2 linked regions of the Homo sapiens genome follow. The protein of the gene in region 2 purifies or fractionates together with the protein of the main gene of each other region. This does not show direct contact. Each region holds a gene or a part of one and is shown on either strand. Other genes may lie near its edges. The genes, in order: INF2 and LRRC57.

Region 1 (3,815 bases), on a different chromosome or scaffold from region 2:
CACCGGGGAGCAGCTCACCTGGACGGGCGAGTGTGGGGTGCAGGTCAGCAGCCGGCCCCTCCCTGGTGGACTAAGGACTGTGGCCTGTCTGCCAGGGTGTCCAGCCCCATCACCCCCTCTATTCCCACGGATCCCTAGAGATGAGAGTTTCAGCGACTGTGGTACTGGTGACATGTGGGACTGTCCTGTGCATTATGGGATGTTAAACAGAACCACTGGTCTCTACCTACTCAATGCCAACAGCACCCCCTGCCCAGCCGTGGCAGCCAAAAATGTCTTCAGATGTTGCCAGATGCCACCTGGGGACACAACTGCCCCCAGATGAGAGCTGCAAGGTTCAGGGAATGAGGGGAAGGCCTGAGCTTGACGAGAATTCAGCCTCTTAGCCCCTCACCAAGCCCTGAGGCCTCTGAAGCCCACCTGATGGGGACTGGGCAGCTGGGGCCCAGGACAGTAAGGCCGGCTGTGGGCCGCACTGGTCTTTGGAGCCCCGTCCTTCTGGGTCCTGTGGCCCTGGCTTTGCCCCCAGGGCCCAGCCCGGCCCCCAGGCTGCCCGCTCTAGGCGCCACCTCCCTTTCCAACCCCTGGGTCCTTGCTGCTCCCTGGAGTCTCACCCCAAAGCTGGCACCATGGCCCAGGTCACAGCAGGGTCTGACCAGGGCAGGGAGGACCGTTCCAGGCCCAGCCTCTGGACCTCAGGGCCACAGCCTGCCCTGGAGGGCTGCCCTCCGCCCTGCAGCCCCCAGCCCACCTTGTGGAACAGGGAGGCAAAGACCTCCTGGTGGCTGCTCATGTCGACCCCGCCAGAGACTCGCAGCAGCTCCTCCTCGTCCTCGGCCTTAGCCTCCTCGAAAGCCTCCAGCTGGATCAGCAGGTCGGCATCCTCCAGGTCTCTGTGCAGGAGGGGCCAGGTGGGCTAAGCCTGCTGCTGCCACCACCAACACGCAGGCGGGGCAGCCTGGGTCAGCGCCAGTGTACCAGCCCCGCTCAGCCCACCTGGGACTCTGAGCCAGGCCATAGCCAGCTGTGGCTGACATGTGACCCACATAGCCAGGGATAGCGACCTAAGAGTGGCAGCTCCCAGGTCAGTGCCTTGCGCCCTGCCAGGCTGCCCCCGGGTCACCAGGCACCCGCACGCCCCTGGGGAAGGGGAAGGGCGAGTATGCCCACTCCCATCGAGTAACGTGCACCAAGGCCTGGGGAGGTGGCACACAATGGAACCGGGCCGTGACCTTGGGGGAGGGAAGGCCCTCCCCTGGGCGCTGCGTGACTACAGTGAAGACCACACCTGAGGTGGGTCCACAGGGCTGCATGGATACAGGAGGGGCGGGGCTCTGGCCTGAGCAGGAGGAAACTTAGTGTTCACTGGGCCTAGGACTTGCCAGTCATCTCAGTCTGGTCAATGAGCACAGCCCTCCGCAGGCAGGGCCGGCCCCCTTCAGCCCACACTGGTGGGGCACAGGCACCCATGTGGGCAAACTTTGCTGAGGCCATTTCTGTTTTTTTTTTTTGAGATGGAGTCTCGCTCTGTCACCCATGCTGGAGTGCAGTGGTACGATCTCAGCTCACTACAACTTCTACCTCCTGGGATCCAATGATTGTCCTGCCTCAGCCTCCTGAGTAGTTGGGATTGCAGGCACATGCCACCACGGCCAGCTAATTTTTGTACTTTTAGTAGAGATGGGGTTTCACCATGTTGGCCAAGCTGGTCTCGAACTCCTGACCTCAGGTGATCTGCCCATCTTGGCCTCCCAAAGTGCTGGAATTACAGGCGTGAGCCACCGCGCCTGGCCCCTGAGGCCATTTCAACACCAGGCATTCTAGCCCTGGGCTCCTCCAAGCTGATTTCCCTGGGTGTAAGGACACCCCCCTGAGTACAGTCCTGACTGAGGCCTGGATAGAGCTTCTCAGCTATGTGGGTTCCCAGCAGGGCTGCAAGATTTAGCAAATGAAACTACAGAGTACCTGTTCAATTTGAATTTCAGACAAACAATGAATAACTTTTGGCATAAGTATATCCCATGCAACATCTGGGATATACTTACACCAAAATATCGTCTGTTGTGTATCTGAAACCTGAATGAACTGCATGTCCCATACAGTACCTGGCAACCCTAGTTTCTTTTTTAAAAAATTTTTATTTTAGACTCGGGGGTACATGTGCGTGTTTGCCACATGGTACACTGTGTAACGTAGGCGATTTGCCTTCTAGGGCAGTGGTCCCCAGCCTTTTTGGCACCAGGGACTGGTTTTGTGGAAGACAATTTTTCCATAGACTGGGGTGACGGGAATGGTTTAGGGATAAAACTGTTCCACCCCCGATCATCAGGCATTAGATTGTCATGAGGAGCGCGCAGCCTGGATCCCTTGCGCGCGTGCGTGCGCTGGAGAATCTAATGCAGTGCTGATCTGACATGAGGTGCAGCTCAGGCAGGAATGCCCGCCCACCGCTCACTTCCTGCTGCGTGGCCCGGTTCCAATAGGCCAGGTACCGGTCCGCAGCCTGGCGGTTGGGGACCCTTGTTCTAGTGGGCCTGACACCAAGTAGCGACGAACACTGTACCCTGTAGGTAGTTTTTCAACTCTCGCCCTGGAGCCCGTGTCCCTGTCTCCATCTTGCGTCCACGTGAACCACCCTGTAGTTCCCTCTTATTGGCATTTCATTTTCTGTTTCTGGGTTGGTTCACTTAGGATCACGGCCTCCAGCTCCATCCACGGTGTGCAAAGGATATGAGCTCATTCTGTCCTTTCTATGGCTGCTGCAACCCTAGTTTCTGTGGGCAGCTGCCAGGGACAGTGAGCTGGATTCTAGCCTGAGACCTGGCTTCTGGCTGGACCCCTGGGGTTACTCCGAGGGAGCCACCTCCCTGCCATCTGGAGGTGCTGCTTAGGTGAGGTGGCTGGGAGCCAAAGGGCAGGTGGGCCTGGCCTTGGGAGCAGGAGGGGGAGCCGGCAGGACCGCTACAGTGGGGACTCACCGCAGGCGAGCCAGGACGTCCAGCAGCTGCAGCCCTGGGAAGGGACGGACAGGGTCAGAGGGTTCGGAGGCCACTCCCCGCCTTCCCCATTTCACTTCTGCCACCCAGAGCACCTGACCCTGCCCTGCTGCACTCATGGGACACCAGAGACCTGAGGCTCTGGAGGGGAGACATCATGCTGGACACACAGTGATGCTTACTCAGGGCTCACTGCCAGAACTGGCAGGGCTAGAACGAGGTCTCAGGCCCCCTGTCCGGCTCCACTGCCTGGCCAGTCTCACAAATGAGAACGGTCCAGGGTTGACCCCCAGGCGTTCTGAGGCCTGTGTCCATTGAAGGGGCAGGTGGTGGCAGGCCCGAGATGGCGCCTTCCTCTGGGGCCCTGGGTCGGGGGCAGCTTTTGTGGCGCTCCCACCTCCCCAGGTGGATGCAGCATGGGATGCACTGGCCAAGAGGCGGGCAGGAGCGGGCATGCGGCCCAGGGCAGGTGCTTACCGATAAACTCGTTCCGCAGCTGGGTGCGCGCGCGCAGGTCCTCGGGGCCCAAGATGACGGCGTTGATCACGCTAAGCAGGGTGACCACGTAGGGCACGTTGTCGCTGCCGGAGAGCTCGTTCATGACAATGCTGAAGCGGTACTGCTGGCTGCACACCGTCTGTGGGGAGGGCGGGGTCAGGGCACACCCAGGCAGGGAGCCCCATGTGCCCAGGCCCAGGCCCTGCCGCCCACCTTGTAGTGGTCCAGGGCGTCCAGGGTCAGCACGTGGCCCTCGGGAGAGTAGATGCACAGGGCAGCCAGTAGCTCAAACACCTGCTTCTTCACCATCACGTTGGATGT
Region 2 (3,815 bases):
GGGTGGATCACGAGGTCAGGAGTTCAAGACCAGCCTGACCAATGTGGTGATACCCCATCTCTACTAAAAATACAAAAATTAGCTGGGTGTGGTGGCACGTGCCTGTAATCCCAGATACTCAGGAGGCTGAGGCAGGAGAATTGCTTGAAACCGGGAGGCGGAGCTTGCAGTGAGGGTGCCATTGAACTCCAGCCTGGGCAATAGAGTGAGACTGCGTCTCAAAAAAAAAAAAAAAGGCCGGGCGCGGTGGCTCACGCCTGTAATCCCAGCACTTTGGGAGGCCGAGGCGGGCAGATCACGAGGTCAAGAGATCGAGACCATCCTGGCTAACACGGTGAAACCCTGTCACTACTAAAAATACAAAAAATTAGCCGGGCGTAGTGGTGGGCGCCTGTAGTCTCAGCTACATGGGAGGCTGAGGCAGGAGAATGGCGTGAACCCGGGAGGCGGAGCTTGCAGTGAGCGGAGATCTTGCCACTGCACTCCAGCCTGGGTGACAGAGCCAGACTCCATCTCAAAAAAAAAAAAAAAAGAATCTGAAGGTACAAAGGTAGAGGATTTCAGACTACCACTAACATCAACATTTAGAAAGCTACCATTTTGGTCATTTTCTGATTTTATCTTAGTCACAAAGCTATTACTAACTATATATCAACAGTTCTCAATAATGGTTAAACCTAGCTTATCCATTAAGTCAAGAGATCACACAAACCTACTATTTAACCTCCACGACAAAATCTTTCTGACGTAAATCTGGTCTAGGTGTTCTCTTTTTCCCATATGTTACTTTCTTTTTTGAGACAGAATTTCATTCCAGACTGGAGCGCAGTAGCACTATCTTGGCTCACTGCAACCTCCACCTACCAGGTTCAACTGATTCTTGTGCCTCATTCTCCTGAGTAATTGGGATTACAGGCATGCACCACCACACCCAGCTCATTTTTGTATTTTTAGTAGAGACAGGGTTTCACCGTGTTGGCCAGACTGGTCTTGAACTCCTGGCTTCAGGTGATCCACCCACCTCAGCCTCCCAAAGTGCTGGGATTACAGGTGGGAGCCAACACACCCAGCCTCCCATATGTCATTTTCTATTTCTCACTTTGAAAGGGGTACTAGTTTATCCATACCAGTTTAGGAGTTTTGTTTTTTCTAAATTTTAATGTTTATTAATCTTATTGATCTACTGAACAATTAACATTTCTGTGTTTTATCAGTACTTCTCATCTAATAAATCAGAACTTATACATTTTTTTTTTTTTTCTGAGACGGAGTCTCATTCTTTCACCCAGGCTGGAGTGCAGTGGTGCGATCTTGGCTCATTGCAACCTCTGCCTCCCAGGTTCAAGCAATTCTCCTGCCTCAGCCTCCTGAGTAGCTGGTACTACAGGCAGGCGCACGCCACCACGCCCTGCTAATTTTTTGTATTTTAGTAGAGATGGGGTTTCACCATGTTGGCCAGGCTAGTCTCGAACTCCTGACCTCAGGTGATCCACCCGCCTTGGTCTCCCAAAGGGCTGGGATTACAGGCGTGAGCCACCACGCCTGGCCAGAACTTATACATTTAACAATTTAAATGTTCCCATTTAATTATTAATTGGAGTTTAATCCACACTCTTATCAGAATCCACAACTACCACCCTTCACAATTTGGGCCTAGACTTATTGCCCTTTCTTCACTCTCATTTGCCTGCCCACCCATATCAGATTATTCTCTCTAAACCCACAGTGCAGTCTTTTCTGACCTCCTTTATACAGCTTGTCCCTCAGTGTCCATGGAGGATTGGTTTCAATACCTCCATGGATACCAAGTCCATGATGCTCAAGTCCCTTATACAAAATGACATAGTATCTTCCTGATACTTTAAATTATCTCTAGATTACTTATAATACCTAATATGCCTACACATAACTTCATTTGCATAGATTCAACATAGTATTTGATGCATGCTAAATTAAGGTTTTGTTTTTTAGAAATTTGAGGCATTTTCCCGCTCAAATATTTCTGACCTGCAGTTGAATCCACAGATGTGGAACCCATGGATACTTAGGGCCAACTGTATTGTTCACTCAGTTGGGAATGCCCTTTTTTTTTTTTTTTTTGGTCCAGAGGCTCACTCTTGCCCACGCTGGAGTACAATGGCGCGATCTTGGCTCACTGCAACCTCCGCCTCCCGGGTTCAAGTGATTCTCCTGCCTCAGCCTCCTGAGTAGCTGGGATTACAGGCAGGTGCCACCACACCTGGCTAATTTTTGTATTTTTAGTAGAGACGGGGTTTCACCATGTTGGTCAGGCTGATCTCAAACTCCTGACCTCAGTTGATCCACCTGCCTTGGCCTCCCAAAATGCTGGGAATTGCAGGCGTGAGCTAACGTGCCCAGCCTGCCCTCTCTTAATTAATATGCTCATTCTGTATGTCTAAGCCTCTTTCCTGCGTCTAAGCCGAATTAACTGCTCACCCATCTGTTACTATAGCACTTCTCACATTCTATATTTATCTTTCATGATAGACTAACTCTTTGAGGGCAAGGGCTATATACAGTAATATGCCCAAAGTTACAGCAAACAAGATTTAGATTTAAATATGAGCTAATCAAGTAAACTAGCTTGTGGTCTAAAGACCCAGATTTGAATCTGGCCACTAGTCCAAGTCACCTAATTTTTTTTTTCTTTTTTTGCGACAGATCTTGCTGTGTTGCCTGGGCTAGTCTTAAACTGGACTCAAGTGATCCTCCCATCTTGGCCTCCCAAAGTATTGAGATTACAGGTGTGAGCCACTGCCTGGCTTTTAAGTCTCTTTTTTTTTTTTTTTTTTTTTGAGACAGAGGCTGTCTGTTTCGCCCAGGTTGGAATGCAGTGGCACAATCTCGGGTCACTGCAACCTCCACTTCCTGAGTTCTAGCAATTCTCCTGCCTCAGCCTCCTGAATAGCTGGGATTACAGGTGCCCACCACCACGCCCAGCTAATTTTTGTATTTTTAGTAAAATGGGGTTTCACTATGTTAGCCAGGCTTATCTCAGACTCCTGGCCTCAGGTGATCCCCCTGCCTTGGCTTCCCATAGTGCTGGGATTACAGGTGTTAGCCACCACGCCCAGCCTATATGTATTTTTTGAGACAGGGTCTTGCTCTATTGCCCAGGCTGAAGTGCAGTGGCATGATCACAGCTCACAAATGCCTTGATCTCCTGGGCTCAAGCTATCTCCTCCCACCTCAGCCTCTTAAGTAGCTGGAGCTACAGGTTATCTGCCACCACACTCAGCTAATTTTTAATTTTTTAGAAAGACGGGGTCTTCCTGTGTTCCCCAGGCTGGCCCCAAACTCCTGGGCTCAAGCAATCCTGCCTTACCTCCCAAAGTGCTGGGATTACAGGTGTGAGCCACCACATCTGGCCCAAGTCACCCAAATTTTTTACAGCTTGGTTTGGAAGGCAATGTAGTATATTAAAATTATGGGCCCTGGAGTCAGAAAGATCCAGGTTTGAATACAGAGTCCGTCATTTATTAGCTTTATGAATTTGAGCAATTTCGTCTCACTTGTAAATATAGGGAATAGCTCCTACCTCTCAGGTATGTTGCAAAAAACTATATAAAAGCACTTAGCATAGTGGCCATGACAGAGTAAGCACTCAGTAAATCATGCCATTTATCTCATCTATAAGGCATGAAAGTAGAATTTTACAAGTTGTACAGAAATAGAAGGCTTGGAGTGGACACTACATTAAAAGGATAAAAAAATGGAGCCAGGCAGAGGCAGGCATCTATAGTCCCAGCTATTGAGGAGGCCTGAGGCTGGAGGATCCCTTGAACCTAGGAGTT

Evidence for each region.
Region 1: the proteins of LRRC57 (region 2) and INF2 purify together in Homo sapiens (co-immunoprecipitation; one large-scale study listed by IntAct). This does not show direct contact.

The regions. Positions count from the first base shown.
Region 1 is NC_000014.9:104,703,113-104,706,927, reverse strand, and holds part of INF2 (inverted formin-2), read right to left. Parts: coding exon 3,708-3,815; intron 3,634-3,707; coding exon 3,474-3,633; intron 3,013-3,473; coding exon 2,979-3,012; coding exon of another isoform or gene 2,975-2,978; exon of another isoform or gene 2,119-2,974; intron 894-2,118; coding exon 752-893; intron 19-751; coding exon 1-18.
Region 2 is NC_000015.10:42,538,479-42,542,293, reverse strand, and holds part of LRRC57 (leucine-rich repeat-containing protein 57), read left to right. Parts: 3' UTR 1-2,682; coding exon of another isoform or gene 2,683-2,706; 3' UTR 2,707-3,815.